Homo sapiens: one gene and its partner. The protein of the gene in region 1 purifies or fractionates together with the protein of each later gene. This does not show direct contact. Each region holds a gene or a part of one and is shown in the gene's direction. Other genes may lie near its edges.

The links. The genes of interacting proteins can lie anywhere in the genome.
Region 2: the proteins of DCDC1 (region 1) and PCDH7 purify together in Homo sapiens (affinity purification with mass spectrometry; one large-scale study listed by BioGRID and IntAct). This does not show direct contact.

Annotation. Positions count from the first base shown.
Region 1 is NC_000011.10:31,366,611-31,371,467, reverse strand, and holds the start of DCDC1 (doublecortin domain-containing protein 1), read left to right. Parts: upstream 1-1,728; 5' UTR 1,729-1,771; intron 1,772-4,857. Other genes in the region: DNAJC24 (dnaJ homolog subfamily C member 24), read right to left, coding at 609-719. UniProt on the Homo sapiens protein: Microtubule-binding protein which plays an important role in mediating dynein-dependent transport of RAB8A-positive vesicles to the midbody during cytokinesis.
Region 2 is NC_000004.12:30,919,369-30,923,238, forward strand, and holds part of PCDH7 (protocadherin-7 isoform d precursor), read left to right. Parts: intron 1-784; coding exon 785-1,001; intron 1,002-3,870.

The DNA of each region.
Region 1 (4,857 bases):
AAGGAGCCAGTAGAAATGCTAGATATGAAAATTAGGTAAGAGATCAAGAATTCTTTTAAGAAGTTTATCAGCAGATGGACACAGTAGAGGAAAAATAAAACCAGTGAACTTTAATCAACATAATCAACATAAAAATTGTTAAATTATTTTAATTCCTTTTAAATACTGTCTTTAAAATCCAGTGTATATTTTACCCTTACAGTCCATCTCAAGTCAGGCTAGCCACACTTCAAGTAATCAACAGCCACATGTGGCTAGTAGCTACTGTTGTTTATTATGTAACAACACTTCTAAATATTTTACATGGATTATTTCATTTAATCCTCCCTTGGCACATATAAGAAAAAGTAACTTGTCCAAATTCTCACAGATAAAGATGGACTCAAGATTCTAACTCAAGCAGCCTGACTCAGATCTCCTGCTCCTAACCATGCTTTTCCACCTCAAATCAAGTTTTTCTGCAATATTACTGAAATGTTCAATTAAATCAAATTAATACCTGGATTCCTGCCACTGGTATCCTATTTTCTGGAAACCTAAATTTGTGGTTTCATATAAAAATTGATTTTTTTCCCCTCATGATTTAAAATCTGAAAGAAAAGACTTACCATTAATATGAGTTTTTGATATTTTTGTTTTAGGTCTGATATATTTGCAGATGGGTCTGCTCCCAGGATGCTGTACCAATCCTTTTTTGGCATCTGCTCAACCGCCATCATCCATGGAACCAGAAGTGGGCCTTCTCAGATTAGCTGAATAGAAATATTAATGACAATTCATCACAGTTTGCCATGTATCTAAGAAAAAATTAAGTACTGCCCTTGTAAATTCTTTAGTATTTAGTCGAGTAAATCATGATTATAATGCAAACCTGAGGAAGCACAGATTTTCATTTAAAATGCCCCAAGAATTCCAGGTATAAGTGTACCGACAAGTATGGAAAACGTGTTAGGTATTTCACGATATATATTTATACTTTAATTAATGAACAGCATTAAAAAAAAGAATTTTATAATGAACCAGGTGGTGTATGAACCTCTAAGAAGGTATTTCTGCTAGTCTTATGATAAAACTGGCACACAAGTAAGCACCCACTAAACACGCTGGAGGAGCTTAATGAATATTTACAAAATGAACGAATAAAAAAAAAGCAAAACAGAACATCAAAGAATTAAAATAAATTTGGGGGCATTCCTTCTGAAAGTTTCTCGTTTGCTTTTCCTCCAGATTGTCTGGAGAGCATGATATGGGAAATAACGTCAGCACCAGCTGGTAGAGAACAAGAGTCCCCTGTTATTGGAGAGGCGCTGAGACCTCGCAAAGACAGAGTGAAACTCTCTACGCGAGGATGCCCCAGTCTTCCACGCTCCAGAAGAGAGACCCTACCAGGAGCCCCAGAAATCAGGCAACCTCTTCCCACAGCTATATACACTTAACGAAACAGCCGGGGCCTCCTCAAGCTCGGGACTTGGGAATCTTCTCCATTCACAGTCGGCTTTACCCACCCAGCCATTGGCGGGCACCCTCTCCGCGCTTTATACGACATCAGACCTACCTAACTTCACATAGGCGCTGCTACCCACTCCTCGCCTGCTGTCGGCCAGAACTCCGGACCGGCTTCTTCTTCCGCCGGAAGTCACTGTTCCGACGTGTTCGCGTTTCTGGCCGAGCTGATGTGGCCGTGGCACAGCTCAGAAGCGACGCTCCGCCCACCCCGACGCGGTCTCTATGGTAACCGGTCACCGCTTCTATGGAGTGGCGTTTACTACCAGTAAGTTCCCAAACTGTGAAGAAAGGCGCCTTTGGCTTCGCTCTAAGTCTCTCTTTTCCGGGCCCCGCGACTGTCGCTTCTCTCCTCCTCCTCAGCGAGCACCCCCTCGCCATCCCAGGCTTTCCCCGCCTTTTTCAAAGCTTCCTCCGTTTACCGTACCCTGAGCTACTCTCAATCTTTTCGGTTGGTGCTTGAACTCTGGGGTGAGAGAGGGGTGCGGGGGCAAGGATGTGAGAAGGATGAGGAGACCTGATGCCACTCTCGTCCCTACAGTTCCTTTACAATGTTCTAATTCGAAAATTAAAAGAACTAAAACCTATGCCAGGTAGGGCTAGATGTGCGGGGGATGGGGTCGGTTTAATTTTTTCTGCAGAAGATATTCGACGTAATTATTAATATTTCTTTTAGACCTTAGCAACCAACTTACAACATAAAAACGTTCCAAAATTCTTTCACATTTGCTATTTCACTTCGCTTTCATTTCAACCCAGTGAGACAAGTAAGGCAGGTGCCATTATTCCCACTTTATAGATGAGGAAAGAAATCAAGGATCAAGGCCAAACAGCTAGTTGGGTAGGGGCAGAACAAGGACTCAGCAAGTCTACACATTCCCAGGGCAGCTATGCTATCTTTCAAGCTTACAGAAAAAAGCAGAATGAACTGTTCTTCTTCGAAGCAGTTAGGGGGCACTGCATATGGGCACTGTTGGGGTTTGTTATTGTTGCTGGTGGTGGTGGTGGTGGTGGTGGTGGTGTTTTTCTCACCTTTCTTTCTTCTCCCTTTCTTGATTCCTGTGTTTCCTTTTATTACTTCTTTGTGCTGCTTACTTTACATTAACACCTCTTCCTAGCATTGTACCTGGAGATGAAAACTACATCTTATTTTTGGCCAGCATGACATAAATTTCACTTGGAGATGTTAAAATGGTTTTGTTGTTACTGCTTTGATTTTGCTTTCCTTCTTTTTTAAACTTCTACCAATCTGAGTTTGAGAAGCAGTCAAGATAAACTTAAGCAGAATAAATAAAATAATCTAATATGATCAGTTATTTAATGATGTTATGAACTATAAAGAATAACTGAATGAAACAAGCAAGTTTAAAAATCTAAAGATGAAAGCATAGATTAGGTTCTCCACAGGGTTTTGTCATGTTTAAAGGCAGATACAAAGAGCATCTGGTTTTAGTCCTGGCTGCATCATACTTTCTTGTGTGGCCTCATGAAAATACCTAAAGCAATGGAATTAAGTAGTGTGGTGAATGCTTTTCTAAACAGTACTGTCAGAATGATGCCACCTTGAACATCTCTAGCCCTCAAACTCCCTTCTGTCCACAGCTTGGTTCTTCCTTGTGTAGGTAGATATGCTCCGGTACTCCAGGTTTTTTGTTTTTTACAGCAAAAGCATTTTATTTTGATTTACTATTTATTAGGTTATTGTGTTACCTTATTTATTTATTGGGGTTTGGAAAGTAAGAAATAGTTTTTTTCCCCAGCAATACCAAATATTTTGTCATTTCATCTCTACATACTTTAGTTTGCATCCCTAAAATGTACCAACTTTTTCTTTTATCTCCATAATGTCATTATTGGACTGTCACATAATATCTAGACCTTACTTACATTTCCACGGTTAATTGAAAATGTCTTTTTCTGGTTGGTTTGCTTGACTCAGAATCAGACAAAATGTACACTTTCCATTTAGCTGTTCTGTCTCTTAAATATCTTTTAAATTATAGCAGTCCCATTTCTTCACTAGAACCTTGTTTTTTTCTTTACTTGCCATTGGCTTACTGAATGAGAACAGTTGTCTTACACTCTGCTTATACCAAAATAAACTTCTTAAAACAATTTTTACATAAATTTCTGATCATTAAGCTTCCTTCATTTTTCATTTTATAGAGCAGTACTTTCCAATAGAAATATAATGTAAGCCGTAAGTGCAAGCTACAAAATTAATTAATCTAAAAATTATTAAGGCGATACTTTACATTCTTTTCTCCTACTAAGTCTTCAAAAGCTGGTATGTATTGTGCCCGAACACACCTCAATTTGAACTAGCACATTTCAAATGCTCAGTAGCCACATGTGACTAGTGGCTACTGTATCCAGCAGGGCAGGTCTAGAGAATAAAGTCCTAACTCCTTAACCTAGCATTCAAGTTACCTCTTCAATATGATCCTTACTTTTCCAACCTCCCCTATTATCTCCATACATTAAACATTTAAACAATTGGATCTTTTCATGGTACTGAAATCAACCCAACAGTCCCATAGACAGGGTTTTGTTTGTTTGTTTAGTTTTGTTTATTGGGGTTTTTTAAATTAATAAACATAGAAATGGACACTTCTTTTCTGAAAGCTTGAAACTTGCATTTGTTTTATCTTTTTGTTTGCTTGTTTGAGACAGAGTCTTGCCCTGGTGTCCAGTCTGGAGTGCAGTGGCATGATCTCAGCTCACTGCAGCCTCTACCTCCCAGGCTCAAGTCATCTGCCCACCTCAGATTCCCAAGTAGTTGGGACCACAGGTGCATGCCACTATGCCTGGCTAATGTTTGTATTTTTTTTTGTAGAGATGGAGTTTCACCATGTTGGCCAGGCTGGTCTGGAACTCTTGAGCTCAAGCAATCTGCCTGCCTCAGCCTCCCAAAGTGCTGAGATTACAGGCATGCGCCACTGCGCCCAGCCACATTTTGTTGATCTTTATCTCAGTTCCTTCCTCAAGAAAGGATGCCCAGACCTCTCAACAAGTATCAAAGAGCTGAAACTCACCAGATTACTGCATCTAGACAGTGATATGCCAGACCCCTCATTCTTCGTTATTGTTTCCTTACCCTTCCTTAGTTCCTGTTTTCTCATACGTAGTTAACATTTCTTCCCTGTTATATAAACCCCTAATTTTAGTCAGTGAGGAAGGTGAATTTGACACTGATGTCCCATCTCCTTGGCTGCAGCATCTGATTAAAGCCTTCTTCTTTGACAATAATCATTGTCTCAGTGATTGACTTTTTGGGTGGTAAGCAGCAAGACATAGATGGAACTCCTGGTGTTTTGGTAACAGCATTTCATCAATAATTGTGTTCAAATGCTT
Region 2 (3,870 bases), on another chromosome or scaffold:
ATTGTCAGTAACATAGTAAATTGTGGAGTTCAACTGGATAGTTTCATAAAATTTTTTAAAAACAAATTAAAGGCTGTACATGATTTTACTTTATTGAACGAATCACAAACAGTAATATTAAGAACATACAATTAAACTTTATAGTTTATTTCCTACTCACTGTTTAGGGATACTTTTATCTATTATTGCAATATGACTCTTACAATTTCAAGGTCCATAGGCAATATTTTTATAGGAATGATGTAATAAACATATTTGTGTTTCCTAGCACTGCATCTAAATTCCTATTTGTCAGCTGTACTTTGAACAGTTTAAGTCAACTGCCAACCCATTTGATTTTATAGCTTTGTATGATATGGACAAAGTATTTAAAAATTGAGTCTTCTTACAATGGATTAGTTCAATATTTACTGCCTTCACAAATCACTGACCTTGTTTTTTTAGAGGCCATTTCTGGAAAGCATATCTGAAGTGAATACTATAGAATAGAAAAAGGTTGAATATGTGGAACTAACATATCAGATTTAAATGTATGTTTTAGTGAAATTACTGTTTTTTTATCTCTGTTTCTGAAAGGGAATTTCCAGTTTTTCCATAATAAAATCTAAGCTCTAGACATTGCCTTAGATAATACATAGTTAACTAATGCAGTTTCAACATATCTATTCATTTTGTATTGAATTAGTTGCCAGTAGACCTTAATGTATGTAATTTATGTATTTTTTAAAATAAGATCATTTACAATCTTACATCGTAGTGACATTCAGAATCTTTTCTTTTGCAGCCATTTCGTAGAGTGACGTTTTCTGTTGTGAGTCAGCCTCAGGACCCACATCAGGGGTCACTGCAGAGTTGCTATGACAGCGGGCTGGAGGAGTCAGAAACACCAAGCAGTAAGAGTTCATCAGGGCCAAGACTGGGTGCGCTTCCACTCCCAGAGGACAACTATGAAAGGACCACGCCGGATGGCAGTGTTGGTGAGGCAGAGCATATGGAAAATGGTAGGGGCAAACACAACATCCACACACATAATCACGCTAGTGAGCCGTAATAAGTAGACTCGCGAAGGTCAGTCTAAAACCAAAATAAAATAGCTGACATTAAAACCATTTTATTTTAAGTGATAAATATTTGCTAAAATACAGAAATGCCAAATAAAGGAACATAACTCTGTAGATAAAATTCACCCAAATTGCACCATCATTTTAAAACATCCTGTCAGAAATAAACGCACTTATAAATAAATCAGAACAGGGCCCACTATGAAGGAAGCTAAATAAGTGCAGAATTCCTAAACAATAGTCACCAAGAAAGGTCTTGTCTAATTGTTTTCTTCTATTCATTTTTGTCATGCAACTATTTCTTCAATTGCAGCTGTCCAGTCTTAGTGAAAGGAAATGAAAGAAACATACCTTGCTCTACCTTTTCTTGTCCTAGATGTTTAGAAAAGCATTTTCAAACCTCTCCTTTCCTATGATCACTGAATAGGGTCAAAAGAGAACAGTACTACTTTGTTCTCCATAGTATGCAATAAATGCTATTAGAATTTCCCTCCTATTCAAGTATAAGGTTTTTTTTTATTTTTATGTGAGAGAAAGGAAGGAAAATAAATCATAATACTCCATATTTTTATACTGTTTTGAGGTGATTCTCATAATTACCACAATTGGCCTTGTATACATTTTCTTTTAAGTTATACATTTAGATTGCAAATAGCACTTATAAAACTTTCCACATTTGTTTATATTCCCAGAGATAATTTGGTGATTTATTTTCTGGATTTTGAGTCATAAGTAAATGCCTGAGGAATAGGTTTGTGTCAAATAATGGAATGGTAAAATTCATCCTAACTTCATTATTCTTTCAAATATGAAGAGAGAGATGGTTAAACAGAGAGAAAGGAAAGGAATCACACACATTTTATCCCTAGTAAAACTTGCAGTGGATTTATGTCTTTTGCCATCTCAACCCCCGAGTGACATAAGACGCTCTAACTTTTTGTTATATATCCGTTTCTTTAGTGCTGATATATATGCAAGTAGAGCATATTAATGCAGGAGAAAGACTGATTTTCTTCTGTAAGTTTACCTATGAATATTAAAATCCAATATTAGAATATAATATATTATAAAGGACCCCAAATGAAAGTATTGCTAAATTATATTATGCTAAATAATTATTTATCCACATTGTTCTTGGTTAAGAAAATATGATATCAGGGTCTGATGATTGACGTCCCTCTTGATTAATTTTGCAGAGTTAAAATGGCATTTTGCCTTATGGCTATAAAAGCATGCTTATCTGTGTGTATGGTGGTGTGTGCTTATGTGGATGGGAGTCTGGTGTGGTTTCTAAGAGTTACATTTTTTTTAGTAATTTTTTTAATGGGCATATAATTTTGGTATGAATTGCAATGCTGATGAATATATATTTAAGGCAGATATGTTTAAAATTATTTGGAAAAAGAAATTAAACTAAAAATACTGTAATTACATACATACTATGTAATTACATATGTAATTTGGATGTCAGCTTTATTAAAAAAGGACTTTGTACCCCTGGCATTATAATCATTTTTCAATGTTAGTTTCTGTTTTATGAGTTTATGGGGATTCATCACCTTTAAAATAAGAAATAAGTGATGAATAATTAAAAGATAATTATGTAATTACATGTATGTAGCCACATGTAATTGCATGTATGTAGTCACATGTACTATAGTGTATTACGTTACATATGTGTAACGTGTAATTACGTATGTGTGATATATGTAATATATAATATGTATATAGTACATATAATTACTTATATGTACATATGTATGTAATTACAGTATTTTTAATATAGATAGATGATAAATAGAGCATACCTAGGAAGGCAGGATTAATTTAATTTAGGGGTATTACTACATCTGAGATTACCTGTTCATGAGAACATATAATTTTGTTTGTGTTTTTAAAAGTGCTTATTCTTACTGTAAAGCACAGAATGTACAATTAAATCTTTATTTTTTGGATGTCAGCTTTATTAAAAAAGGACTTTGCACCACTGGCATTATAATCATTTTTTAATGTTAGTTTCTGTTTTATGAGTTTATGGGGATTCATCACCTTTAAAATAAGAAAGAAATGATGAATAATTAAAAGATAATTATATATGACAAACACATATCGGTTACCTTTTAGGAAACACACATGTCATGGAAAACTTAACAGGTGAGCTTGTTAATAAAATATAAAGTATACTGAGAAAGAGTTCCAAAAAACGACTTTTAATTCTTTTTTAGAACCAAGTTTTTAAGGCCTGTCAAAAGCAAGGGTCATGATAATGTAACGGATCTTTCCTGATTTTGTATGTGACCAACACTTGAAAGTCAGAGTTTATATGACCATTTGTCATCTACTGGCTGTGATTCATGTTAGCCTTGATCTATAGGTAATGACAAAATGAGATGCGATGCACTGTGGCTGATCTAAATGTAGCAGTTGACCTTTGAGTAACAAATTTGTTGGGTCCGTGTTTTCAGACTACTCATCTAGCCATAAAGTGCAATTGTGTTGCTTAAATTCTGGTAATTTCATCTTCAGTATTAATGGATCATTCTGACATAAATAGAATTGGAATTGAAACCTGTCAAGTATTCATTTGTCACATTTAATTGGAATCCAGGTAATCTGTAGTTTTTTGCTTGGCTAGGTTTTAATCAGGATTTGTATTGGATTTTCATTTGGATTTTCCATTAAAATACCATTTTGGATGCTGTGCTAGTTCCTAATTATTATTACCTCAAACATTTTTCTTGAATTTTAACCTATGTGAAACAATGCAGTTATCAGCAAGTGTTTGGGATTAACTTTCATTGTAAAGTTT